Homo sapiens: one gene and its partner. The protein of the gene in region 1 purifies or fractionates together with the protein of each later gene. This does not show direct contact. Each region holds a gene or a part of one and is shown on either strand. Other genes may lie near its edges.

The links.
Region 2: the proteins of SGSM3 (region 1) and LEMD2 purify together in Homo sapiens (affinity purification with mass spectrometry; 2 studies listed by BioGRID and IntAct, with this or other methods). This does not show direct contact.

What each region holds. Positions count from the first base shown.
Region 1 is NC_000022.11:40,373,594-40,380,593, forward strand, and holds part of SGSM3 (small G protein signaling modulator 3), read left to right. Parts: intron 1-7,000. UniProt on the Homo sapiens protein: May play a cooperative role in NF2-mediated growth suppression of cells.
Region 2 is NC_000006.12:33,786,131-33,795,982, reverse strand, and holds the start of LEMD2 (LEM domain-containing protein 2), read left to right. Parts: upstream 1-6,852; 5' UTR 6,853-6,866; coding exon 6,867-7,602; intron 7,603-9,040; exon of another isoform or gene 9,041-9,208; coding exon 9,209-9,249; intron 9,250-9,852. Other genes in the region: MLN (promotilin isoform 1 preproprotein), read left to right, coding at 378-480, 1,148-1,158. UniProt on the Homo sapiens protein: Nuclear lamina-associated inner nuclear membrane protein that is involved in nuclear structure organization, maintenance of nuclear envelope (NE) integrity and NE reformation after mitosis.

The DNA of each region.
Region 1 (7,000 bases):
GATAGGGCAGTTGTGTTTTTTGTTTTTGTTTTTGTTTTTTTGAGACATAGTCTCACTCTGTCACCAGGCTAGAGTGCAGTGGGGCAATCTCGGCTCACTGCAATCTCTGCCTCCCGAGTTCAAGCAGTTCTCCTGCCTCAGCCTCCCGAGTAGCTGAGACTGCAGGCGTGCACCACCACACCCAGCTAATTTTTGTATTTTTAGTAGAGACGAGGTTTCACCATGTTGGCCAGGATGGTCTCCATCTCTTGACCTCGTGATCCGCCCTCCTAGGCCTTCCAAAGTGCTGGGATTACAGGCGTGAGCCACCACACCTGGCCTGATAGGGTGGTTTATTTATTTTTATTTTTATTTATTTTATTTATTTATTTTTGAGACGGAGTCTCCCTCTGTCGCCCAGGCTTGAGTGCAGTGGCGTGATCTCGGCTCACTGCAAGCTCTGCCTCCCGGGTTTATTTACGCCATTCTCCTGCCTCAGCCTCCTGAGTAGCTGGGACTACAGGCGCCTGCCACCATGCCCGGCTAATTTTTTGTATTTTTTTTAGTAGAGACGGGGCTTCACCGTGTTAGCCAGAATGGTCTTGATCTGACCTCGTGATCCGCCTGCCTCGGCCTCCCAAAGTGCTGGGATTACAGGTGTGAGCCACCGTGCCCAGCCAATAGGGCGGTTTTTATAGTTTGAGAGTTGGGGAAGGAACACTTTATTGTGAAGATGTCACTGGACTGCCACCAGAGAGAAAGCTTAAATTGGTCTAGACTGTAGTGTCAAGACTGCGTGCTTAGGTATATACTTTTAGGGAAAAGCTGTATCCACTGAGAGATGACATGGTTGAAAGATACAGTATAGGCTTTAGAGTCTGACAGATCTGGTAACTGAGCTACAATTTCTTCTTTGTAATACTTGCCTGCAATGTAAGCTCTATGAAAGTAGGGGCTTTGTGTTGTTCACCACCTCACCCCCATCTCCTAGAACAGTGGTAGGTGAGCAATAAATATCTGTTGAATGGGGCCCAGTACGGCGGCTCACGCCTGTAATCCCAGCACTTTGGGAGGCCAAGGTAGAGGATTGCTTGAGCCCAGGAGTTCAAGACTGGTCTGGGCAACATGGCGAAATGCCATCTCGACCAAAAACATAAAATTGCCAGTCATGGTGATGTGCGCCTGTGGTCCCAGCTACTCGGGAGGCTGAGGCAGGAGGATTGCTTGGGCTCAGCTCAGGAGGTCGAAGTTGCAGCCAGCCATGTTTGTACCACTGCACTCCAGCCTGGGGAAGAGAATGAGACCTTGCCTCAAACAAACACATTGTACCAGTACTATCAGTAGTAGCATATGACTGAAATAACAAGGCTAGATTTTCAGTGTGGCTTATGAACTGATTTTGACAGCACCATTGTTTGAATGCTACATATATAATCACCTCCCCTTTTTGAAAATTTAGGCTTACTAATTTATGCTCACCATTTATACATGAGGAGAGATACATTCACCTCTTTTCAGTAGGCACAGTTAACTATTAACTGTCTCTTCTAATATATGCCTCTTTTGCAGTGATAAACATATTTCTGCTTTTTCTAAGTGTGATACATGTTTTGTATTTGTTTTTCTCTCTACTAATGATGTAAATTGTTTTGGGAGGTTAACTGCTTTGGAATAATTAAACAGCTTTATCAACAAGAGTAACTGATATCAGAAATTAGATTGATAGGCCGGTTGTGGTGGCTCACGCCTGTAATCCCAGTGCTTTGGGAGGCCGAGGTAGGCGGATCACCTAAGGTCAGGAGTTTGAGACTAGCCTGGACAACATGGTAAAACCCTGCCTCTACTAAAAATACAAAAATTAGCTGGGTGTGGTGGCAGGCGCCTGTAATCCCAGCTATTCGGGAGGCTGAGGCAGGAGAATCACTTGAACCTGGGAGGCATAGGTTGCAGTGAGCCGAGATCATGTCATTGCACTCCAGCCTGGGTGACAAGAGTGAAACTCTGTCTCAAAAAAAAAAAAAGAGATTGACACCCCCAATTCAGTGTCAAAAGTCTTATCTTGGAAAGGGTATAATTTCCAATTAAGACAGAGAATTTTTTTTTTTTCACTACAACAAAATTATGTGACTTTTCTCACCCTTCTCTAGATATCTAATTAGCCTGCAAGCTAACACTCTAAAGACATGAAACAGGCTGGGCTTATGTCTGTAATCCCAGCACTTTGGGAGGCTGAGGTGGAAGGATCACTGAAGCCCAGGAGGTCAAGACCAGCCTGGGCAACATGGTGAGACCCTGCCTCTACAAAAAAATTTCTAAAAATTAACCAGATATGGTGGCGTGTGCTTGTGGTCCCACCTACTCAGGATGCTGAGGCAAGAGGATCACTTGAGCTCAGGAGATTGAAGCTGTAGTGAGCTGTGATCACACCACACACCACACACTCCAGCCTGGGTGACAAAGGGAGACCCTGTCTCAAAAAACTGGAAAAAAAAAAACAAGATATGAAAGAACAGATCATTTCCCTTTTCCCTCTCTTGTGTTTGAGTTTCGTTTGTAAATATCCTTAATTATGTGACTTGAGGATAGGGTTAAAGTCAAATTACCACTTTTTTTTTTTTTTTTTTTTTTTTTTTTTTTTGTCTTTTGGAAACAGTACGGTAGTCGGAGCACCAACAATGAAGTTCAACTTACGGCTCTGCTGCTTGCTTCCTTGCTTGTCTGCTTGCTTGATTGATTGACAGGGTTTTGCTCTGTTGCCCAGGTTGGAGTGCAGTGGCATGATCATAGCTCACTGAAACCTCAAACTCCTGGGCTCAAGAGGTCCTCCTGCTTTAATCTCATGAGTTGCTGTGATTACAGGTGCATGCCACTGCACCCGGCCTGGCTTTACCATTGTAAACTTCGAGAACTTACAAGTTATCTGTCATGCCTCATTTCTCTCACCTGCAAAAATGGAATAATTAGTGCTACTCATAGTAATAGCTAATATGTATTAGGTGTTTGCTATATATACCAGTCACAGTTCTAAGAATTTTATTTGTATTAACTCACAATCCTCACATCAACCCTATGTATTGCTAGTATTATGCCCATTTACAGGTGAGACAACAGTGACAGAAACAGTAATTTGCTAAAGATTGGTGGAGTCAGGATTAGAACTTAGTCTGACTCTAGAGTTTATGCTCATAATCTCCACCTTCATAGTTTTTTGTTTTTTTTAATTTAGCATATAATCAAGAAATAGAGTAGTTTTGAAGATTAAATAAAATCTATATAAAATGGCTGTGACAAGCATTTACGGTATTAAGTACTACAGTTAGCTTCGAGTTTACAAAGCATTTTGCACACATTTTCTTTGATTGTCATAGGAATAACCAAATATGCTTGTGACCATCACTGTCCGGCAGGAAACAGGCACACATTTGGTCACTTTCCCAGTCATGCAGCATGTGTGCAGACAGTGCCCTGGTGTTGCTCCTCCATATCTAGATCATGTGGAATTTGAAGCATCACATTTTGAGAAAATTTAGTAGACATAAGTTGTTTTGGCCTGTCCAGCATCCAATCCAGGTTCTTCTGGGGATAACAGCTCAATTTTGCTTTGGAGAACAGTTCATCCCTGACCAACTAGGTGGTAGGCACATGGCCCAGGTCAGGCCAACAGATGTTAGGCAAATAGATGCTTTCCTCCTTTAATTTGAATCTTAGGTTGAATGACACAGTAACAAAAGTTCAATAAACAGTTGCAGCTCCTTCATCACAACCACAGGCTAATTCCTAATATCTGGGCACTAGAGCTGCTGTTGTTTTCAACGAGCTGAGTCTTCAGCTTTTCCTTGGTTTTATGTCCTACTACATATCCTTCCAATACATTCCTGTCTTTCATAACTTAAGTTACCCAAAGTCAGTTTTGGTGGCTTGCAGCTGAGACACCTTTAACTTTTACATGGCATGAGGTCATGTCATGTAAGAGTTAAAATAGGCCTGGTGTCGTGGCTCACGCCTGTAATCCCAGCCCTCTGGGAGGCCAAGGCAGGCGGATCCATTGGGCTAAGGAGTTTGAGACCCGCCTGGGCAACATAATGGGAACCTGTCTCTACAAAAAAAAACTTTAAAAATTATAAATAGCTGGGCATGGTGGCATGTGCCTGTAGTCCCAGCTACTTGGGAGGCTGAGGTGGGAAGATTACTTGAGCTTGGGAGGTCAAGGCTGCAGTGAGCTGTGATCGTGCCACTGTACGCCAGCCTGGGTGACAGAGCAAGACCCTGTCTCAAAAAAAAAAAAAAAAAAGTTAAAATAATCAGCTAACTTTAACCTGAAGAGGAGAGAAATCTTGGAGAAGATGTGGGTATCTTCAAATGTCTGAAGTATGTAGAATACAAAGTACCCCTAAAAAGACCAAAGAGTAGATATTACTAGCAAACAGATTTCTGCCCACGTTAAAGCCTAAGGCAGGGCTATCCACAGGTGACAGACTGTCTTGGTATGTGGAAATAGATACATCCACTAAATTGTTCAAGCCAAGACAAGATGGTCACCTGGGAGGAGTAATATGGGTTTAGTAATCTAATGGGGACTGGGTGTGGTGGCTCATGCCTGTAATTCCACTGCTTTGGGAGGCTGAGGCAGGATGATCGCTTGAGGCCAAGAGTTTGAGACTACCCTGGGCAACATAGCAAGACCAGCATCTCTACAAAAAAATAAGAAAAATTAGCCAGGCATGATGGTGTGTGCCTGTAGTCCTAGCTACTTGGGAGACTGGGGTGAGAGGATTGAGCCCAACAGTTTGAGGTTATAGTGAGCTGGAATAGTGCCACTGCATTCCAGCCTGGGTGACACAGCAAGACCCTGTGTATATTAAAAATAATAATATGGCCGGGCACGGTGGCTGATGCCTGTCATCCTAGCACTTTGGGAGGCTAAGGCGGGCAGATCACTTGAAGGTGGGAGTTCGAGACCAACCTGGCCTACATGGCGAAACCCCATCTCTACTACCAAAAATACAAAAAATTAGCCGGGTGTGGTGGCGCATGCCTGTAATCCCATCTACCAGGAAGCTGAGGCAGAAGAGGAACCCAGGAGGCGGAGGTTGCAGTGAGCTGAGATCACACACTGCACTCCAGCCTGGGTGACAGAGCGAGACTCTGTCTCAAAAAAAAACAGAACAAAACCAATAATAATAATCTAATGGGTTGTTGTACTGAATGAACTGTAAAGTTCTCTCCAATTCTGAGATCGTGATTCTCTGATTGAAATCTAAATCTGCAGACTCCGAGACCTAGAGTTCTTTTTAGAAGATTTACCTGCTTTTCCTCACTTTTCCAACCTAGTCTCTTATATTCCCGCTTCACCACCTATGTGCTGCTCTTTGTTTCGGACCTCTGCTTCCATCAGCTCCTCACCTTCTTCAGGTGTTTGCTCAGATTTTTCTTACTGAGCCTTCCCTGACTACCTAATTTAGAATAGCAGCTCCTGAAAGTGCCTATGGTTCTTCCTGCCTCATTTTACTCTGTAGCACTATTCATCTGACATACAGTGTGGTCTCTTATTAATTTTTTAAGTTACTTCTTTCCCCTCTAGAATGCTGGGACTTTCAAAGAAGGGATTTCTATCTATTTTGAGCACTTCTGTGTTCCCGACACTTAAAACAGTGCCTGGTACATAATAGGCACTCAATAAACATATGTTGATTGAATGAGTATTTCCTCAACACAAAGTCACCATTGGGTCTGCTTTGTGTTCTAGGAGAATATCTAGCTCATGCTGTCCACTTCGTACCTTTTCTCTGTTGCTTCCCTTACTCGCTGGTGCCTTTCTCTTTTCCTCTTCTCTTTGGATCACAGCATTTCAAGACTAGAAGTCTGAGATCACCTCTTCATAAGGACCAGAGTCCCTGTGTAACACAGCTAGTTAATGAAAGATGTGGGGTGGAGGGTGACTGACTGTTGGATTGTTTATCTCTGTTAAACTGTGGTCTCCCTAAGTCTTGCTCAGTTCAGGCCCGTGCAGTGCCTGCTGCAGCATATGCATATCCCTCAGTGAGTTATTAAGTAAATATCTTCCTCCTTCATGAAGGCTTTTCCATATCAACCTGTAGTTATCTCTTTATTTCTTTGAACTTTGGTAGTATTTGTGGTCTCTGTTCTTATTATTAAGGCAGGGTCTCACTTTGTCACCCAGGCTGGAATGCAGTGGCACAATCTCCACTCACTGCAACCTCCACCTCCCAGGCCCAAGCAATCCTCCCACCTCAGCTTCCTGAGTAATCTGGGACTACAGATTTGCACCACCACGCCCAGCTAATTTTTGTATTTTTTTGTAGAGATTGGGTTTCGTCATGTTGCCCAGGGTGGTCTCAAACTCCTGGGCTCAAGTGATCCACCCTCCTCGGCCTCCTAAAGTGCTGGGATTATAGGTGTGAGCCATCGTGCTCGGCCTGGTTTCTCTTATTAACTGGCCTTGGGTTGTTTGCCATTTTATGTGTCTGTCTGGTCAATGAAATTATAATCCCATGGACAAAGACTAAATGTACCTACTACAGAACCTAGTCCTGAGAGGCAGTATAAAGTAGTGAAGTGCTGTCCAAGAGAACTTTATACAGTGCTGGAAATGTTCTTGTATGACTATTAACATTTTTTTAATGCTGTGTGTGTATTTGTATGTGTGTGTGATTAAGTAATTACACTTATCTGCACCACCCAGGAATAATCAGTAAACATTCTGGCATTTATTTCTTTATTCATCTATTAATTGTACATTTTCTAGCTTTTTTTAACCATGAATATCTATAATTTTTTTTTTTTTTTTTCCTGAGACAGGGTCTCACTCTGTCACCCAGGCTGGAGTGCAGTGGCACTATCTCAGCTCACTGTAACCTCCGCCTCCCGGGTTCAAGCAATTCTCCCACCTCAGCATCCCGAGTAGTTGGGATTAGAGGCATGCCCCATGACACCTGGCTAATTCTTGTATTTCTAATAGAGATGGGTTTTCACCATGTTGGCCAGGCTGGTCTCGAACTCC
Region 2 (9,852 bases), on another chromosome or scaffold:
GTCTCAAAAAAAAAAAAAAAAAAGCTTAGAATAAGGGTAAGACTCCACAATGTTGGCTATAATTGTTGAGGTGGGAGTGAATTCCCTCCCCATGAGAAAAGCCTGCTGGGGTTCCTGCTGACCCCACCCCTCCTGTCCCAGCTTCCCCGTTATGGAAGGTGTATTGATCCCCTCAGCAGGACTCAGTGACCTTCAGGATCCAGCCCTCTGGTTAGAATTAGGGGAAGGTGGCAGAATTCCCAGCCATCCCTAGAGGCTCTAGTGGGGTCTGCAGGGTGGTGTGGCTCCCAAGGGTCCCTCCTGCCACCTGTAGTGCACCCAGGGGTTAAGGGCCCTCTCCACCTCTCCCTCGTTGTTAACGCTGCCTTATTTCACAGCTGACTGCTCCTCTGGAAATTGGAATGAGGATGAACTCCAGACAGCTGGAAAAGTACCCGGCCACCCTGGAAGGGCTGCTGAGTGAGATGCTTCCCCAGCATGGTACGGGGAGGGCGGGCATCTCTGTGGCTTGGCCGGCCTCCGCCCACCCTGGCGTTAATACTCCAGAGGCAGGGTTTCAGGGTGGCAATTTGTTTGGCTGCTTTGCACTTGAGAATGTGGAGCCGTCTTCTCCCTGGGCTATGCTGTGATACCTGCTGGTGGCTGCAGCAGTTCTCCAGGGAGGCGGGTCTCAGGCTGGGTTCCCAGCTACCCACCCCACTCCCCTGCTCCAGATATTTTCATTCCCTTCCACAACATCACCACAGGGTGGCTGCTCCGAAGGGAACCTTGGTGAGGCTTTCCCTTCCCCCATTCATTCTGCAGATTAAAGTCCTGAGCCCCATTTGGCCTTGCCCAGTTCAAGGTCTGCCCGAGTTACCTGAGCAAAGCTACATCTCCTCTGACAAACAGCCACTAATTACTTCTCATAGTCCCCAGGAGGAGAGGAGAGACTCGAGGAAGTGCTGTTAGTGATGGAGAAACTGGGAGGTTAAATGACTTGCCCCAGGCTACAGACAGCTTGCAGGCTCCTTGCAAAACTTCCCACCTTCCCGCCCAGCCTGCCCTTGTGCCCCCTCCTCCCTCCGACCTGCAGGCAAGTTTTAGAGGGCAGTTTCATAAGCAGACCTGATGATGGTACTGAGCGCAAACCTCTGCTTTTCTCCAGCAGCCAAGTGATGGCCACGCTGGGGAGAAGGTGGACAGATTTGGGAGGCCCCTCCTGCCCAAGTGAGGCCCTGGGAATTTACAGAGCCTGCCAGCTGGGCTTGGAAGGAAAACACCCTTTCCAAAGCAAATTCCCCTCCAGCAAATAAAGCATGAAATATACAGAAATGACTCTTATTTAATATTTTAATTCCCAAAGGGCAAACTCAGGTCGCAAGAAAAAGGGGGGGAAAGTAAAGCTCAGAGAAAGTTGGCCATAAATGATGCTTACATTAGCATTGTGTGCCTTTTGTGAGGTCTAAGTTCAAATATTAACTCAGATCCAAATAAGTGGAAGAGTACCACTGGCCCTTCCATTATAGGTGAGGAAACTGATCATTTTTTGCCCACACACTGAGTCAGTGACAGAGTGAGGACTGGAATTCAGGTCTCCCGGGTCTCGGTCCATTTCTAGTTTACTGACTAGCTCAAGGTCTAACGGGCCAGAGAATTTTAGGGCCTCCGCACTCAACCCCTTGCCAAGTAACTTCCAACCAGCCCTTTAACCTCAATGAGCCTGTGCAAAACCAAGGTGGTAATATCTGCCTCGAGATCTGGGATGGAGGCACAAGCAAAGAGCAAATTACTATTAGCACCTTGTGACTACCAACTCCAGCATCCGCAGCAAAATTACACAGCCAACCCACTTATTTCTGCCTTCTAAACAAAACTGGATGGGAAATTTCATTCCAATTTAATTTTACATTAATGAATGTTCATGTATTTATAAACTGGGGCCACACTGGAACTGCAGCTCCCTCCATCCATAGGTTACCAGCAATTAGATACAGTGTCCATTCTGCATTTCCACCCAGGCTTAGCCACAGAAAGTAGTTACCAGAACAAGAACTCCACTGCTGAACAAGGCACCCTCATTTGAGGTACTCTGAATTCTCCTGAGAAACACTCAAACCATCCATGGGCTCCCACCCCCGCCACGCTGAACATTCACACGCATTTCCAGCACATATACCGATGAGCCCCAGAGCAGGTGCAGGTTCCCGGGAAATGCTGCCAAGATGCCCGGTAATAGAGAGAGAGGGCTGCAGCAGAAGGGCATGCGGGGGGCAGCGGGGGAGACACAGAAATCTATAAAGCCTGCTGCTGGGAAGATCTGGATCCAAGGCTCCTCCTTGCCCTTCCGAGCTCCACCACGCCAGTTCACCCCATTTTCTGTAACACACTCCAAGAAGCAGAGAAACGAGATGCTCACGGTGGTCCCTTTCCCCGTGGAAAACGCATTTTGTGTCCTTCCCTCACCCTCTGCTGGAATCTGCCTCTGTAGGGAGACCGCCTTCCCCTATCACCAGAGGGGGTGCCCATTTCTGGGTTGGGGGGGAGCCCAGCACTGGCTGGGGAATTTTCCCTGAGATTCTGGGTGTTGAAGAGCCTCTCACTGAAATAGACACCCACCATGGAGGGACATGGGGCCCACAGGAGACTCTGCCCAGGAGGTCTGCACTGTTTAGGTGGGAATGGGTTCAGCAACTACAGCACTGGGGAAGGGAGAGGGTGCTGTCCATTCTGCAGAAAAGCCCCGTTCAAAGCTCAGCATTGCCGCCCGGCAGCCCCAACCCTCACCCCGCGGCCTCTGATGTGCTTCTCAGTAATGAGCCGCAACAGGGACCCAGCTACCACCTACATCTGTATGCACAGTGCCCTGGCTGCTTGTTTAGATGTGTCGGCTCCTTTCTTCTCTCGTTTTCCTCCTCCTGCCACTGTTCGATTTCTCACAATTGGCTCAAATAATTCTTTTTTCACCAACAAGCTCCTCCAGTTTCCAGGACAGCCGACTTGATTGCTTATGGGATATCCACAGCTTTGGAAGAAATTAAAATTGGGAGGAGGTTGGGGAGGATTCTGTGAGCTGAGTGAAGAGAAAATGACTATGTTTTCACAAAACAGAAGAAAAGGAGACATGCTCCTGGTTAAAGCAATAGAATGAGTAGGACCAGAGACCAACCAGGATCAGAGACAGGGAGGGTAGCCAGAGTAACCAGGAGAGCAAAGATGCCATTCCTCTTCACATCTCACCCAGGCTTATCCAGCAACATCTGCAAGAATCTCTCCAGATATCTGGCAATTACAGAGAGGTACGGATTACCCCATGTTCATCTGGAATGTACTTTACACTTAACAGGACTACAGGTCATTACAGTGCAACTTGAACCTAGCTTCACAAAATGGAGATGATGAGGTATTTTCTTGGTAACCACATCGGTGTGATTTTAGCATTACTGCGCTATGTGGATTTGCCATGAAATTGAATAGTTAAAAGCAAAGAGTAATTGCCTGATATCTGTATGCTGTAATTTAGTGTAATCTAATCATGGACAAAGCCCAAAAGAAAATATTCTCAAAGCATTACATTTTTCTTCATACACAATTTGTTATTGACATTCGGTAATATATTCCATGCCTTTGAAGGAACTCTTACTCATGGATATCAAAGTGTGAGAGCAGTCAAAAGAGTGAGAGATTTGTTTAATTTTCAACAGATTATGAAATACCATTCTGGCATTTCTCTGTGACTCCATTTTCCCCCTTAGCTGATGCACCCTCAGACCTAGAGAGAGGAAAAGAGTGTCCTCCTCTTCCATAAGGCACTGAGATGGAGCAGTGAGAAGCTGGGTGTTCCTGGGTCATTCCAGTCAAAATATGAGCCCCACATGGCCCCCACTTTTCAACCACAATCTCCCGGTGCCCTGCCCCCACTGTAATGCCACCTATAATGTAGTTTGAAGGAAGCCCTGAATAGCTGAGGCAATACGTGAGGCCCTCCATGAGGTGGATCAAGGACGATTCCGTGGTCCCTGAGTATCTTTGAGGACCTGATAAATGTGTGCAGGGCTTTTTGCAGGAGGACGAAGAGAATGGAACCCACTAAAAGATTTATGGCTGTGATTATTATAAGGCTCTGCCAAGACAGAGAGAGGTCAACGGGACGGAAGGGAGTATGGCAGCCCCCCGGGAATCCAGAGCGTGCTCAGAGCAGCCCTTCACCTCTGATAAATGTGTGGATGTGGTTACTAAGTAGATTTAGATATTGGAGCTTGTTTTTCCTCTTCTGCCTTTAATACATCAGGAAGACTGACCACAGCCTAAGCTGCTGCTCACCTTAAAAAAAAAACCCACAGCAAAGTGATGAGAAAGGAGGGCATGCAGAGCAGCCTCTGACTTTGCAATATTGCCCTTTTCTTTACAATAAGCCTTCCTGCCATGGACAGGCCCAGCAGGAGAGCCAGGCTGAAGGCACAGAAAGGCTGGCTGCCAGAAGCCCTGGCAGGTTTCGTGGGTAGCTCCCGAAGGGGCAGCAGTGGCAAAGAAGAGCTGAGGTCGAGCCCTTCCAAGTGGAGGGCAGCATGTGGATGGTTGTGTGGAGGAAAGCAAAAAGCAACACGCCAACTTCACTAAACCAAAGAGGGGCTATAAATCTGGGCAGGAACGTGACTGGAGCTGGGAATTCAGGATGAAATGGAAAGGCCCAAAAACTGGGAGGAACGCCTGACTAACTTGTGAGGTTCCTTCTCAGAGGGGGTGGGGAAGGGGAGCATTGATCAGCAAATTTGCAGTTAAGTGGTCACTGGGTGCCCCTTGGTGCACATCCAAAGGCCTGCCTGTAAGATCCTGCAAGACAAGGCCATCCACAGCCAGAAGCCACAATGGAGGTAAAAGGGCTGACCATGGGTGGCCAAAGGCCACAACTCCAAGCACAGTGGGTTCTACACCACAGGGAAGACAACAGGGTTCTGGGGGAGGGGCTGTGGGCCACTTGACCCTACGTGTGTGGAGCGGCAGCAGTGTCCCCAAACACAAGGAAGCTGACAAAGCCCACATTGCGTGCCACCACTGGGGGTGGCTCCAGTTCAGTCCATATTTTTAAATCGCCCTGAGATCCATTGTTATAAAATAGACCATAACTCTGTGAAATGCTGTAACGATAACTTTGTTTAAGCATTAGTTTCAAGCCCTCTTAGAATACATGGGGCCAGTACTGATGCCGAAAGGCTCATTCTTTATATATTGAACCGCACAGCTGCAAGGAGTTGCACAAATGTTACCAACTCATTTGTCATGCAAACAGTGCTTCAGAAAGAAATAAAATACTATTATGTGGTATATGTGTTAGGCAATCACTATATCAAATTCATGGCATTCTGTGCAAACACATGCAGGGAAAAGGAAAACAACACTTGGTGAGAGAAATCACACCACATGGGAGCAGCTAAGTCAGGGGAGATGGGGAGGCTAACAGTGGAAGCTGACCAAGCCGAGGCTGTCATTTTCCCAGCAATTGTGGCCAGTGTTGAATACCCCTGAGGTGGAGCAAGTGGCAGGAATGCAAAACCCAGACAGAGGAGCATAGCATTGCCCAGGGTGTCAGGGAGGGGAGGGAATAAAGTGGGGAATGGGCAAGGGGGCTGTTGGGACAGATACGGGGCAGTTCCAGGGAGGAGGGGCCTGGGGGAAGGGGAGAATGGAATGGCAGGGGTAGAAATGGATGGAACCCATTGGGCCGGCAATAAATGTTTGGGAATGGGAGTTGAGGGATGTGGAAGGAAGATTATAAACTGGTTCTATTTCCAGTTGCCACATTCCCTTGCTTCCCTTAGGGGTTTCCTGCTAAGAGCCTTCATGTAACCAAATCACCTGCCCTGTGGGAGGCTCTACACAGCACTGACACTGCAAAGATGTGGGTTAAGTATAAACACGCATGAACGTGTGCCAGGCACTGTCCCAAGCACCTTAGCCAAACTACCTCTTCTAATCCTCACAGCAACTCTATTGAGGTTTACTGGCAAATAGGCTAACAATGTTAATTGAATATGATCACACATCTAATAGTTGTGAGTAGGGATTTGAAATCGAACTGTCTGGCTCCAAAGCCCACAACCTAAACCACCAGTGAGGCTGCAAGACCGTGTATCTCTGGAGTCTTCTCTCTCCCATGTCTCCTTGTAAAAATCCCATTACGCAGACACAGGCCCTCCGCAGAGAAGCCTCAACTGCCCATTCGAACCCAAGGGCATTTTGCTCCTCTGCCTCCACCATGGATGCTGCGTCTCCTCCAGGCTGGCGCTCCTTGGGGGCCAGTGTCTGTCCTAAGGCAGGGATCGCACCTACTTGGTGCTCAGTGTCGCCCAGTTAACAAGCCCGAAGTCGGGACAGGGTCTTGGAGCATGCCTGGAGTGTACTCTAAGACCCAAATAAAACCGGATCACACATCAGTCCCCAAGCCCAGAGAGGCAAATCATCCTGTCTCTCCATTCGTGGCAGTGGCTTCGTTCACCATTAAGCAATTCATCTATTAAATCAACGCTGACTTTACTGAACGCTTACCACCTGCCAGAGGCAGAGCTAGGGTTGGAGGACTCAGAGATTAATACCGCTTGATCTAACAAACAAAGGGAAGTGGGAGAGCGGAGAGAGAGAGAAAAACAAAACAAAACAAAACAAAACAAAAAATTTAATCCCCCTTGGACCTTCCCACCATGGCGGCTCTAAGAGCCACGTCAGACCGCCTCATCATGGCCGACCAAAGGCCAAGTGCAGACCTTCCCAACATGGCGACCGACCTTCCCATCATGGCGCGTGGCCCCGCCCGCTCCGCCGCGCCTGCGGGAGGGAGCAGTTCCGGGTGCGGTGCGCGCCAGGGGCGGGCGGGGGGCGGCGTCCTGGCCATGGCCGGCCTGTCGGACCTGGAACTGCGGCGGGAGCTGCAGGCCCTGGGCTTCCAGCCAGGACCCATCACCGACACCACCCGGGATGTCTACCGCAACAAGCTGCGCCGCCTGCGGGGCGAGGCCCGGCTGCGCGACGAGGAGCGGCTGCGGGAGGAGGCCCGGCCGCGGGGCGAGGAGCGGTTACGGGAAGAGGCCCGGTTACGCGAGGATGCGCCGCTGCGCGCCCGGCCCGCCGCGGCCTCTCCGCGGGCGGAGCCCTGGCTCTCCCAGCCGGCCTCGGGCTCGGCCTACGCGACCCCTGGGGCCTACGGTGATATCCGGCCCTCCGCGGCTTCCTGGGTAGGGAGCCGCGGCCTCGCCTATCCTGCCCGCCCGGCGCAACTCAGGCGCCGCGCCTCGGTCCGGGGCAGCTCCGAGGAGGACGAGGACGCCCGGACGCCCGACAGGGCCACGCAGGGCCCGGGTCTCGCGGCCCGCCGCTGGTGGGCAGCGTCTCCCGCCCCGGCGCGGCTGCCTTCCTCCCTCCTCGGTCCCGACCCGCGCCCGGGCCTGCGGGCGACTCGAGCGGGCCCTGCTGGCGCGGCGAGGGCCCGGCCTGAGGTGGGGCGCCGGCTGGAGCGCTGGCTCTCTCGGCTTCTGCTCTGGGCCAGCCTAGGGCTACTGCTCGTCTTCCTGGGCATCCTTTGGGTGAAGATGGGCAAGCCCTCAGCGCCGCAGGAGGCGGAGGACAACAGTACGTCCTGGGCCGGCGCAGGGGAGGGCCCTGGGCGCGCGTGTGTCCGCCGGAGGACCCCCCGTTCCTGTCGGCGCCAGGCCGCGCACTTCCGGCCTTGTCAGCTGCCTCTGACTGTCTTCTCATTTCCAGGCCTGCCTTCTTCCAGCTGTGGGAAGAGAGGGCCAAGGCTCCTGCATCTGCAATAATTTCTGCCTTCACTTTCTCCTGTTCTCCTTTTCTGCCCCAGCCCTCCCTTCTAACGTCTCCCTTTCAATCACAAGCTGTAGTCACTGCTCCTCCAACCTCTGGTTTTCTCCCTGGAGAGGAAGCCACACCCCCCTCTAACAGATTCACCCCATCCGTTTGGGTTCTTCCCTTTTGACCTCTGGCTTACACATTTAGTGCCTGTTTGAAGGCACTCCAGATTTCAGTGGCCCACAGATAGGATCTGGTTGGGGGTCCCACCTTTGTAGCACCAAAAAGTCCACTCTCCACTTCTTTGAATCACAGGGCCGCCGCTTTGTCAACAGGAGAATCTACCAGCCTTGCTTGCCAGACAGGTTAAACTGATCGCAACTGGAGGCCCTTATCATTGCTTGTAGCACCCTCATGGAGTGTGTTAAGAGAGAGACTACGACTCAAGGATGCTCACAGCCATCCTTCTGGCCACATTTAAGTTACATGGTTAGATATGCCAATGAGAGGTCTGCAGGATACAGTATGTATCCGGAATAGCTGAGGATTGTGTGTTTTCTGAAAGGAAACATAGAGATCATTTCATTATACATTTAGGTATAAAGGGCCACTGTAGTTCACCAACTTTTAATACTCTTTACAAAGCACGAATGTGACTAATACTGTTCCCAGCTTCCAGCCAAGGCCACATCCTTTCATGCCTAGCAGGAACTGCCAAAATACAGGAAAAAGCTAAAGTATGTCTTAGCTGGTGTGGCAGATGGATGTTTGGGAGTGTACAAGTCTGTGGGCAAGGGTATTAACAGACTCGTGTGCAAACACCCAAATGATTTCCCCACTATGAGAGCATTTATCAACTATGTGAATAGTTTGTCGACCTGCTAGAGAAATTAAGGAGACCTGGGAGTGTCATGGTACTATAACTACACTGGTGATGTCAAACAGTATCACACTGGTACTCACTGCTGAGATGCTTTAAGACAACAGCGCTAGAATGTATGCTGGTATTTACCTGGACTTCCCCTCCCATTACGGTGTTAATCTCTGTTTAACATATCATTGTTTACAAAACTCCTATATTTTGTTTTGTTTGGGCCTAACTCCCTGAGTTAAGCAGGGAAGGCCCATTTGATCCCGTTTTACAGACGAGGAGACAGAGGTTCAGAGTGGTTGAGTTGCCCAAGAAACTTGAGCTAATCATTTTCAGCTGGGACAAGGACCCAGCTATCGTAATTCCTAATCCAGGATTTGGATACCCTTACATTTTGCTGTCTGCATTTTAAAAGTGCCTTCCTTAGATGACATCTTTCTAATCCCCACCCTTGGCTTGGTAATGCTTTACTCCCTCCAAATGTTGTGAGTAGTCTCTTTTTGTATTCCTTTCTCAACCCACACTTAATTTCCTCTGTGTTTCTTTTCTTGGTCTCAGTGAAGTTATTGCCAGTGGACTGTGAGAGAAAAACAGATGAGGTGAGTTTGAGTTTCTCTGGTTTTTATTATTCTTCCTGAGGATATTAGCCTCCATCAGGAGGTAAACTTCCCCAGAAAAAGAATAGGATCATTTTCAGGGAGTGCTTCCTGTAATGTACCAGAGTCACATTGTGTTCTGTGATGTTCTTGTCAGGCTCAATTGTGGCAGTGAAGGAATACTTGAAATAGAATTGACCTCCCAAAATCCAACCCTGGGCTTGTTATGGACACTTTCCCATCAAATGTAGCATCGGGGACTTTGATCTGCCTGAGTCAATCTAGGGGGATGCAGTAGGTTGTTGTTGAAGGACCCTCAAGCTCCCTGGCACTGGGAGGAAGGGCCGGCGTTTCTAAGCATCAGGAGGCCAAGTTCTCAATTCCACATTCTCTGTCTCCAGTGGTGCAGCTGTGGCTCTGAAAATGCTGTTCTGATTTGAAACATAGGGAGTTTGTTTGGAACACATCTTAAGTGGAATTAGCCCTCTTAGTCTACATTTAGATTTGTTTTATGAAGCTCTAATATGGCGAGCAGCCCCATCCATTTATGAATCATGAAAGCAGCATTATCAAGGAGCTGGGATGCTGCTTCTGGTGACAGTCTGG